2 separate regions of the Homo sapiens genome follow, and region 2 is linked to region 1. Evidence: fine-mapped expression QTL. A gene starts in region 1. The other region holds a variant in brackets. All regions are shown on one strand. Distances are from middle to middle. Region 1 holds the start of GRIN2D (glutamate ionotropic receptor NMDA type subunit 2D). Region 2 overlaps GRIN2D (glutamate ionotropic receptor NMDA type subunit 2D).

What was found. PIP is the estimated chance that this variant, and not a neighbour inherited with it, causes the effect.
Region 2: its variant is the best candidate, but not a certain one, in a credible set for the expression of GRIN2D in subcutaneous fat (FUSION, PIP 0.88).

The regions. Positions count from the first base shown.
Region 1 is chr19:48,391,275-48,395,781 of GRCh38, reverse strand. GRIN2D (glutamate ionotropic receptor NMDA type subunit 2D) reads right to left here and starts at 2,114. Exons shown (of 14, transcript NM_000836.4): 1 at 1,914-2,114; 2 at 846-1,124. KDELR1 (KDEL endoplasmic reticulum protein retention receptor 1) reads left to right here and starts at 4,231. Exons shown (of 5, transcript NM_006801.3): 1 at 4,231-4,507. The coding sequence starts at 4,424. RefSeq lists a silencer at 4,075-4,394.
Region 2 is chr19:48,419,892-48,423,891 of GRCh38, reverse strand. It overlaps GRIN2D (glutamate ionotropic receptor NMDA type subunit 2D), which reads right to left. Exons shown (of 14, transcript NM_000836.4): 11 at 1,947-2,107. Among named protein-coding and RNA genes, the nearest start is that of GRWD1, 24 kb to the left of the region's middle. The variant C/T (reference allele first, on the strand shown) is at 2,186.

The DNA of each region.
Region 1 (4,507 bases):
TTGGTTTCAAACCCTATCCTTCCCAACATCCTGGGTGCCCCCCCACCGAGCTCTGGCCTCCCTAGTCACCCCACTTAGATCCTGTACATAGCACAGCCTGTCCCCAAGCGGGGAGGAGGAGGAGGGTGCCAGAAATTCCTAGGGTGTCCCTGTCTTCATTGCCCCCCACAGCATCCAACAGAGAAGAGAGGAGCGGCCACTTCGATCAACAGCTCCCCCCACAACCTCGAGTTGTGCTGCAGACGGCATCCCGTTTCCTCCCCCCTCACCTCCCAACACACACACACAACATCGGTCTCTCCCCACCCGAATCCTGATGCTTGGAAGAGGCTGGAAGGGTGTTCCAGAACCTTGAGGAAGGGGTGGGAGCTTGGGGCGAGGGGTGCTGGGGGCCTGGATGCCCTCAAGGTCCTTGGCGGGGGTATTAATAGCAGACTCATAGCTCTGACATGGGAGGGGAGAGCGAGAGGAGAGAGGGAGAGGACCGGCTCGCGATGGGGGGACTGATGCAGGGAGGGGGGTACAGGGAGAAGGTGAGATAGAGAGATGGAGGCACAGGGATATGGGGCATCAGGTATGTGGGGATGGGGAGAGGGAGCCAAGTGTCAGAGAAATGGGGGCGTGAAAGGTCTGAGGTGTAGGGACTCAGGAAAAAGGGGCTCAGAGAGGGAGAGAGAGAGGGTGGAGGAGAGTCCCTGAGGGACAGGGGAGCTAGGTGGGGGTCAAGACCCCTGCCCACCGTTCAAACCCCCTCCCTCCACGAGGCTTCTTGCCAACTTCCTCTGTCCTAGATTTGGGGGTCCACATTCCCACCACCATCCCTGCATCCCCTGTCCCCGCCTTACCTTTTCATGACCCTGTTCTGTTGGGGGGATGGCGGGGGGGCCAGGACCGGAACCCGGCGTCCAGCGACCCCAAGATTCCGAGGAGGGCTCAGAGAGCCGATGTCGGGGGGCAGGCCCCGGGGCGGCGGCAGTGGTGGTGGCGGCAGCAGCGGCAGCCCGGACCTCCTGTCTGTCCCTGGCTCCGTCTCTCCTTCCTCTTCCTTGGTCCTGTCCTGCCCTGTCTCTCCCCCAAGGTTGCGGCCACCTGGACTAGGCGAGGACGTGGCTACACATGTTGCTCTGGAAGTTGGGCCCCGGACATTGCAGAGGCTGTCGGGGTGTCCTCTTGCCGCCCCGACCCCGTGGGGATCCCCCCTCCGCCCACCCGGGGTGCCCCCCTCTGCCGCTTCAGCCCCGGCTCCTCCCCCCTTTCCATGTGTCCAGTCCCGCCTCTCCCTGGCTCACTCGCACCCCCGCTTTGTGCCCTCAGCCCCCCCACCCCCCCTTCCAGCGTCTGTGTCTATCTGTCTGTCTGGGTCACCTCTGAAGCTAGTGGCTGGTGTGTGCGTGTGAGGAGCGGGAGATTGCCTGCTTGGGGAACTGCTTGCCCCTTCCTCGCTTGGCCACCTCTAGACCCCCCCTTGACTCCCCCACTCTCAAACACAGGCAGAAACACACATACACTCACGCACACACGCACGATCTCACTTCCCTGGGATTCCCCCTCAACACCCCCAGAGCTTGAGGAGGGACACACACACAGACACACACACACAGAGTGGGGGGTCTAATGGGGGCCAGGCTGCCACTGCTGATAGGGGCTGTTTGGACAGACAGGAGGACACAGGCAGCCGGGGACGCCCAGACGCCTGGCCGGACGCAGGCAGGAGGCACAGAACCCAGGTACACACCATCCATCTGGGTTTGGGGGGGCCGGGGGGAAGGAGCGGGAGCCCCACGACACCCAGGCAGGCAGCTCAGGGTCGGTACAGACAGACAGACCCCTCCCTCCCTCCGCCGCCGCAGCGCTTACAGACACACCCCCCCTCCACCAGCCAGCCCCAGACACCCGGACACACAGATCCTCACCGGGCAGATGGCAGACGCTCGAGAGACCCCTGGGGGCCGGGCCGACCTACCCAGGCAACACCCCCAGCAGGCACCGGTGGCCGAGGGAGGCTGCGGGAGGCTGCGGGCGAGGGTGGCGGCGGCGGCCGCGGCTTGGAGGAGCTGGAGCGGGAGGGACTCACACACTCGCTGTGTTCTCGCACACACACACTCACTCGGGATGCGATTAACATTCAGTCCCCGTCTGCCACTGCCGGGAGACCCACAGCCCCCCCTCCTGGCCTCCCTGGGGACCCCTTCTCCTGCCAGGCTTGGGGAGGGGGCCGCCCCCCACCCCTAGCTACCAGCCTCTGCCTTCCTCCTGGGACAAGGGAGTGAGGGGCTGAAAATAAAAAGGGAGGAAGAAGTCAGGCTGGGGACAGGCAGGCAGGGACTCAGAACCCGGTATGGAGACACCAGCTTCAGAGCTAGACTCCAGGGCTGGGGGTTGCTGCCCTCTGCCCCCGCCCTGCCTTGAGGCTCTGGAAACAGGAGGCCTTTCCCTGACTTCAGTGTTCGCCACACTAAGACCCAAGCTGTGGCTTTTATTGCCCCAGAAGGCCAGGCCTGAAAACCAGGTCTCGACCCTGGTCCCAGGAGTCCCACCCCCCAGCCCCTCCTCCCTCAGACCCAGGAGTCCCCTTCTCTACTGGGACCCAGGAATTTGGGGACCGCCTCCAAGTCGGAGTCTCTTTTAAGGACTCAGTCATCCCGACTCTCCCCCGTACAAGCCACCCTCAGGGACCCAAGACTCGTGGATGTCACCCTTGGGCACCCCGTCCTTCCAGCCCTCTGAAGAAATCAACACGCCTGCACCCCTTCTTTTATTGAGGGACCCTGGCCTCCATCATCTGTGGGTACCCCATCATCCGGAAGGGAAGCCACGTCTGTCCCCTCATAGATGCAGGAGTCCAGACCACAGGCTGTTCCCCGGGGGTCCCACACCCAGATGCCCAGCATTCCCCTCCTGCTAGAGGGCTGGGCCCGGCACTTTTATAAAGCCACCCGTGGGGCTCTGGGGTAGAGCGTGGGGCAGGACACCGGGGCCTCTGAGGGTGGAAGAGGGTGTGTGTGTGTGGGCAGGGCAGAAACTCTGGAGCAGGGGGGAAGCCAGGGCCAGGGGCTCCTGAGGTAGTTTGGGTCAGAGTTTTGGCCTTGAGCCTCCTGGGTGAGGCTCCTGTTTCCTTCATCCTCAAGGTCTGGGAGAACAGGGTGAGGTGCACATTCCTGAAAAAGAAGAGAATCAGGGCCTAAATCTGTGGGTCGTAAAGGGAGAAACTGTAGATCTAGATTCTTAAGGTTAGGATGTTTGATCCATAAGATGGTGGGGGTGGGACCCTAAGTTCCAAGGAACAGCGTCCTAGGAGGGAAAAGGGCTGGGGCCCTGAACTCCTGGGTCTGAGGGAGGAGGGGCTGGGGCCCTGGACCCCTGGGTCTGAGGGAGGAGGGGCTGGGGCCCTGGACCCCTGGGTCTGAGGGAGGAGGGGCTGGGGCCCTGGACCCCTGGGTCTGAGGGAGGAGGGGCTGGGGATCTGGACTCCTGGGTCTGAGGGAGGAGGTGCTGGGGGTCTGGACTCCTGGGTCTGAGGGAGGAAGGGCTGGGGGCCTGGACTCCTGGATCTGGGGGAGGAGGGTCTGGGGGCCTGGAGTCCTGGGTCTGAGGGAGGAGGCTGGGGGCCTGGACTCCTGGGTCTGAGGGAGGAGGCTGGGGGCCTGGACTCCTGGGTCTGAGCGAGGAGGAGCTGGGCCTGGACTCCTGGATCTGAGGGAGGAGGGGCTGGGGGTCTGGACTTCTGGGTCTGAGGGAGGAGAGGCTGGGGGTCTGGACTCCTGGGTCTGAGGGAGGAGGGGCTGGGGACCCAGACTTCTGGGTTTGACGAACGGGCTGGGGCCTTGAGTCCTGGGTCTAGGGGAGGAAGTAGGTGGGGTATCTTTCTTGTCTTCTGGGGGATTGGAGTTAGAGTGCCTGAAAGCTGCAAAAGCTAGCAGCTGAGCCTCCGGGTCCCTGCAGGATTTTTCAAGCTCAGAGGGCAGTCTCTACATCCCTGCAAGGGCTGAGGCTGGTGTACTGGACTGCGTCTCTTCCAGAGACACAGACTGCCTGGGCGAACCGGTGCTGGATTTGGCACTTTCCGAACCCTGCGACCCTCCCAAGTTCCTATGGGGCAGCTTTGGGGGTGCGTTTAGCGCCGCCACGGCAAAGCAGGAGGTGGGCGATAGGGGGCGCCGGGGATCCAGGCCCCGCCCTCGGGGGCGGAGCCTCTCCTCCCGGACTCCTCCCCCTCTCGCTCTCCTCCCTCTTCCCGGCTCCAGCTCCGCCGCCAGCTCCAGCCTTTGCTCCCCCTCCCAAAGTCCCCTCCCCGGAGCGGAGCGCACCTAGGGTCCCTCTTCCGTCCCCCCAGCCCAGCTACCCGTTCAGACCAGCAGCCTCGGGGGGCACCCCCCCGCCAGCCTGCCTCCCTCCCGCTCAGCCCTGCCAGGGTTCCCCAGCCATGAATCTCTTCCGATTCCTGGGAGACCTCTCCCACCTCCTCGCCATCATCTTGCTACTGCTCAAAATCTGGAAGTCCCGCTCG
Region 2 (4,000 bases), 28 kb before region 1:
TGAGCTGAGATCGAACTACTGCACTCCAGCCTGGGCAACAGAGTGAGATCCTGTCTCAAAACAAACAAAAACAGAAATCAGATCATACCCTTCCTTACGTAAAATCTCCACACCTCAAGGCTTCTCACCGCCTTTAGCATAAAGTCCAGCCCTGACCTTGGCCTCATGCCCAGAATCCTCCCCTCATCTACTCTCTCACCTCAGCTCCTTGCCCTTCAACCACACTGGCCTTCTTGCTGTTCCTCCAGTAAACCAACACTGCACCTTCCTCAGGCCCTTTGCACACTCTGTTCCCTCCGTCTGAAGGCTCTGCTTCCGGAAGTCCACCTGGCTAGCTCTTTCACCTCCTGCAGGGCTCTGCACAAATGTCACCTCCTCCGAGAAGCCCACCCTGAACACCCTGGTGAAAATATCCCAGCCCTGCCGCCCTCTAGCTCACCATCACTTTCTGAAGAGATCTTGATTTTTCTGTTTGCATGTTTATTGTTCATTTCCCACCTCTAGACCTAGGAATCGGGTCTATTTGTTCACCGCTTAGCGTACAGCAGAGGATAAGAAAAATGCACACGGAAGGACTGAGTAAATGCAGGACGGGGAGAGAGTTACTGTGCTCAGCCTTGTTGTATTCGTGGGCTGCACTTTGGGGCCTGAACTCAACTTTTTTTGTATTGTTTTCTTTTTGAGACGGAGTCTGTCTCTGTTGCCCAGGCTGGAGTGCAATGGCACAGTCTCGGCTCACTGCAACCTCCGCCTCCTGCATTCAAGCGATCCTCCTGCCTCAGCCTCCCAAGCAGCTGAGATTACAGGCGCCCGCCACCACGCCCGGCTAATTTTTGTATTTTAAGTAGAGACAAGGTTTCATCATGTTGGCCAGGCTGTTCTCAAACTCCTGACCTCAAATGATCTGCCCGTCTCGGCCTCCCAAGAGCCTGTTGCCGCACCCAGCCTAATTTTTGTATTTTAAGTAGAGATGGGGTTTCACTATGTTGGCCAGGTGGTCTCCAACTCCTGACCTGAAGTGATCTGCCCGTCTCCGCCTCACAAAGTGCTGGGATTATAGGCGTGAGCTACTGCGCCTGGCCTCTGAATTTAACTTCATCCCTATGATTTGGGAAAGGGATGTAAAAAGATAAGAAACACAATCTAAGCATTGATTCCAGTGAGTTCAGGTCTAATGATAATGATAATATCAGCAAACACCTATAGTGCACCGGGCACTGTTCTAAATAAATAAATAAATGTTCTGAGTGGACTAACTAGTTTAATTCTTTTTTTTTTTTTTGAGACGGAGTCTCGCTCTGTCGCCAGGCTGGAGTGCAGTGGCATGATCTCGGCTCACTGCAACCTCCGACTCCCAGGTTCAAGCGATTCTCCTGCCTCAGCCTCCCAAGTATCTGGGACTACAGGCGCGTGCCACCACGCCCAGCTAATTTTTGTATTTTTTGTAGAGACCAGGTTTCACCATGTTGGCCAGGATGGTCTCGATCTCCTGACCTTGTGATCCGCCTGCCTTGGCCTCTGAAAGTGCTGGGATTACAGGCATGAGCCACCGTGCCCGGCTTACTAGTATAATTCTTGTAACAACCTTATGATCATTACAGTGGGGATACTCTTGTTATCCTCATTTTACAGAGGAGGAAACAGAGGTTCAGAGAGGCTGAGTAACTTGCCCAAGGTCACAAAGCCAAGAAGGGGAAGAGCAAAGATTTGAGCCCCATCAGTCTCACCCCAGAATCCAGAAATACTGCATCCCAGAAAATATCCCAAGGAGCCTGCTCCTGGGAGGAGGAGTCCACTTCCACCCTCAGTGACCTCCGCCCTCCAAGCTGACCCACCCAGGGCTGACCTCTGGGACTGAATGAATGAACCTGGACCCCTTGCCATCTTTGAGCATCCTCAGGTCCCCAGCGGCCCAACCCCCACCCCCGGCCCGAGTCTGCGCTGACCCTGCCTTGAGCTGAGTGAGCGCTTCCTCTACGCGGGGCTGGTTGTAGCGCACCATGTAGCTGTGCATGTCGGGATAGTTGCTGCGGATGTTCTTCTCCGTGGAGCCGTTGGGCACGGTCCCAAACTTCAGGGGCGGGTACTGCTCCTGGGGCCTCTGGAACTGGGGCAGAATGGGGAGTGATTAGGGCACCCTCCGCAGGGACATCCCTAACATAAATCACCCATTCTGAGACACACC[C/T]GCTATCTGGCAGACACCCCAGTCCCAGGAGTGTTCAATATTTCTCAACACTCGCTCACTACATTAGGGAATGCTTTTCCACTCCCACCCAGCACACACGGTTGCAGACACGTGATCCAAAAGTTCACGAGAAGCCTCCCTGAGGCCCCTGATGTGCCAGGTGTTAAGTCTTCACTTACTGAATCGCGGGAGGTCCTGGGAGTAGAGGCTGGCATGGCAGGAGCTGGGAGCTGTTGCTATTTACCAATCCGTTCAGAAATAGTTCACTTTTTTTTTTTTAAACGGAGTCTTGCTCTTGTTGCCCAGGCTGGAGTGCAATGGCACACTGTCAGCTCACTGCAACCTCCGCCTCCCAGGTTCAACTGATTCTCCTGCCTCAGCCTCCCGAGTAGCTGGGATTACAGGCACATACCACCATGCCCAGCCAGTTTTGTATTTTTAGTAGAGATGGGGTTTCTCCATGTTGGTCAGGCTGGTCTCGAACTACCAACCTCAGGTGATCCGCCCGCCTTGGCCTCCCAAAGTGCTGGGATTACAGGCATAAGCCACCGCGCCCAGACAACTAAAACAAGTTTTGTAAAACCAAACTTATACATAAGATGCAGGCAACTATTCTATTCTACTCCATTCCATTAAAAAATGCTTATTGCAACCCATCAAACTGATTTCTCAAGCCTCTAATAGGTCATGACACCCAGCTAGTTAATCACTTTAGTCTCAAAGTATGCTCTGCAAACCACCAGTCCCTCAACAAACGGTGATTGCAGTGAGATGTGTACAGGAATGGAGAGAGTGAGCATTTAGAGTGATTTGACAGAATTCTTTTTCGTCTGTTGAATCTAATAAATAAAAATGTGAGTTTGGCTTTTTTTTAGGCAGAGTCTCGCTCTGTCACCCAGGCTAGGAATCAGTTCTATTTGTGGCGTAATCATGGCTCACTGTAACCTCCGCCTCCCGGGTTCAAGCGATTCTCCTGCCTCAGCCTCCCAAGTAGCTGGGACTACAGGCACCCACTACCACGCCTGGCTAATTTTTGTATTTTTATTAGAGACGAGGTTTCACTATGTTGGCCAGGCTGGTCTCGAACTCCTGACCTCAGGTGATCCACCCACCTCGGCCTCCCAAAGTGCTGGGATTACAGGCGTGAGCCACCGTTCCTGGCCAGGTTTGACTTTTGTCTGTCTTGGTTTTAGATCTTATTTTACTTTTCTAATAATTCATTTCCGTTGAATTTTACAAAAGCATTGTCTGCAATGGACTAGCAGTTTTTTGTTTTTTTGAGACAGAGTCTAACTCTGTCGCGCTGGCTGGAGTGCAGTGGGGCGATCTCGGCTCACTGCAAGCTCTGCCTCCTGGGTTCACGCCATTCTCCTGCCTCAGCCTCCCGGGTAGCTGGGACTACAGGTGCCTGTCACCACGCCCGGCTAATTTTATGTACTTTTAGAAGAGACGGGGTTTCACCGTGTTAGCCAGGATGGTCTCGATCTCCTGACCTCGTGATCCGCCCGCCTCGGCCTCCCAACGTGCTGGGATTACAGGTGTGAGCCACCGCGCCCAGCCTTAGAAGTTTCAAAAATTAATCCTTCCTCACAGTTTGAGAGAAGCACTGGTTCTAGAATATCCTATTTGACACAACTGCCCCTAGAACATTCAGGGACACCCTCTTCCCTAGGAATATTTTAAATAGCTCATCGTGAACCGTGTTCTTTCTTCATCCACAACATTCCATTCTACCATTCTGGAATTCTCCTTGGGAAGAGACCCCTTCCCGCCCTCCCCCCACCCCTCTCACCCCCGCCCCCCGCAAGAATCCCC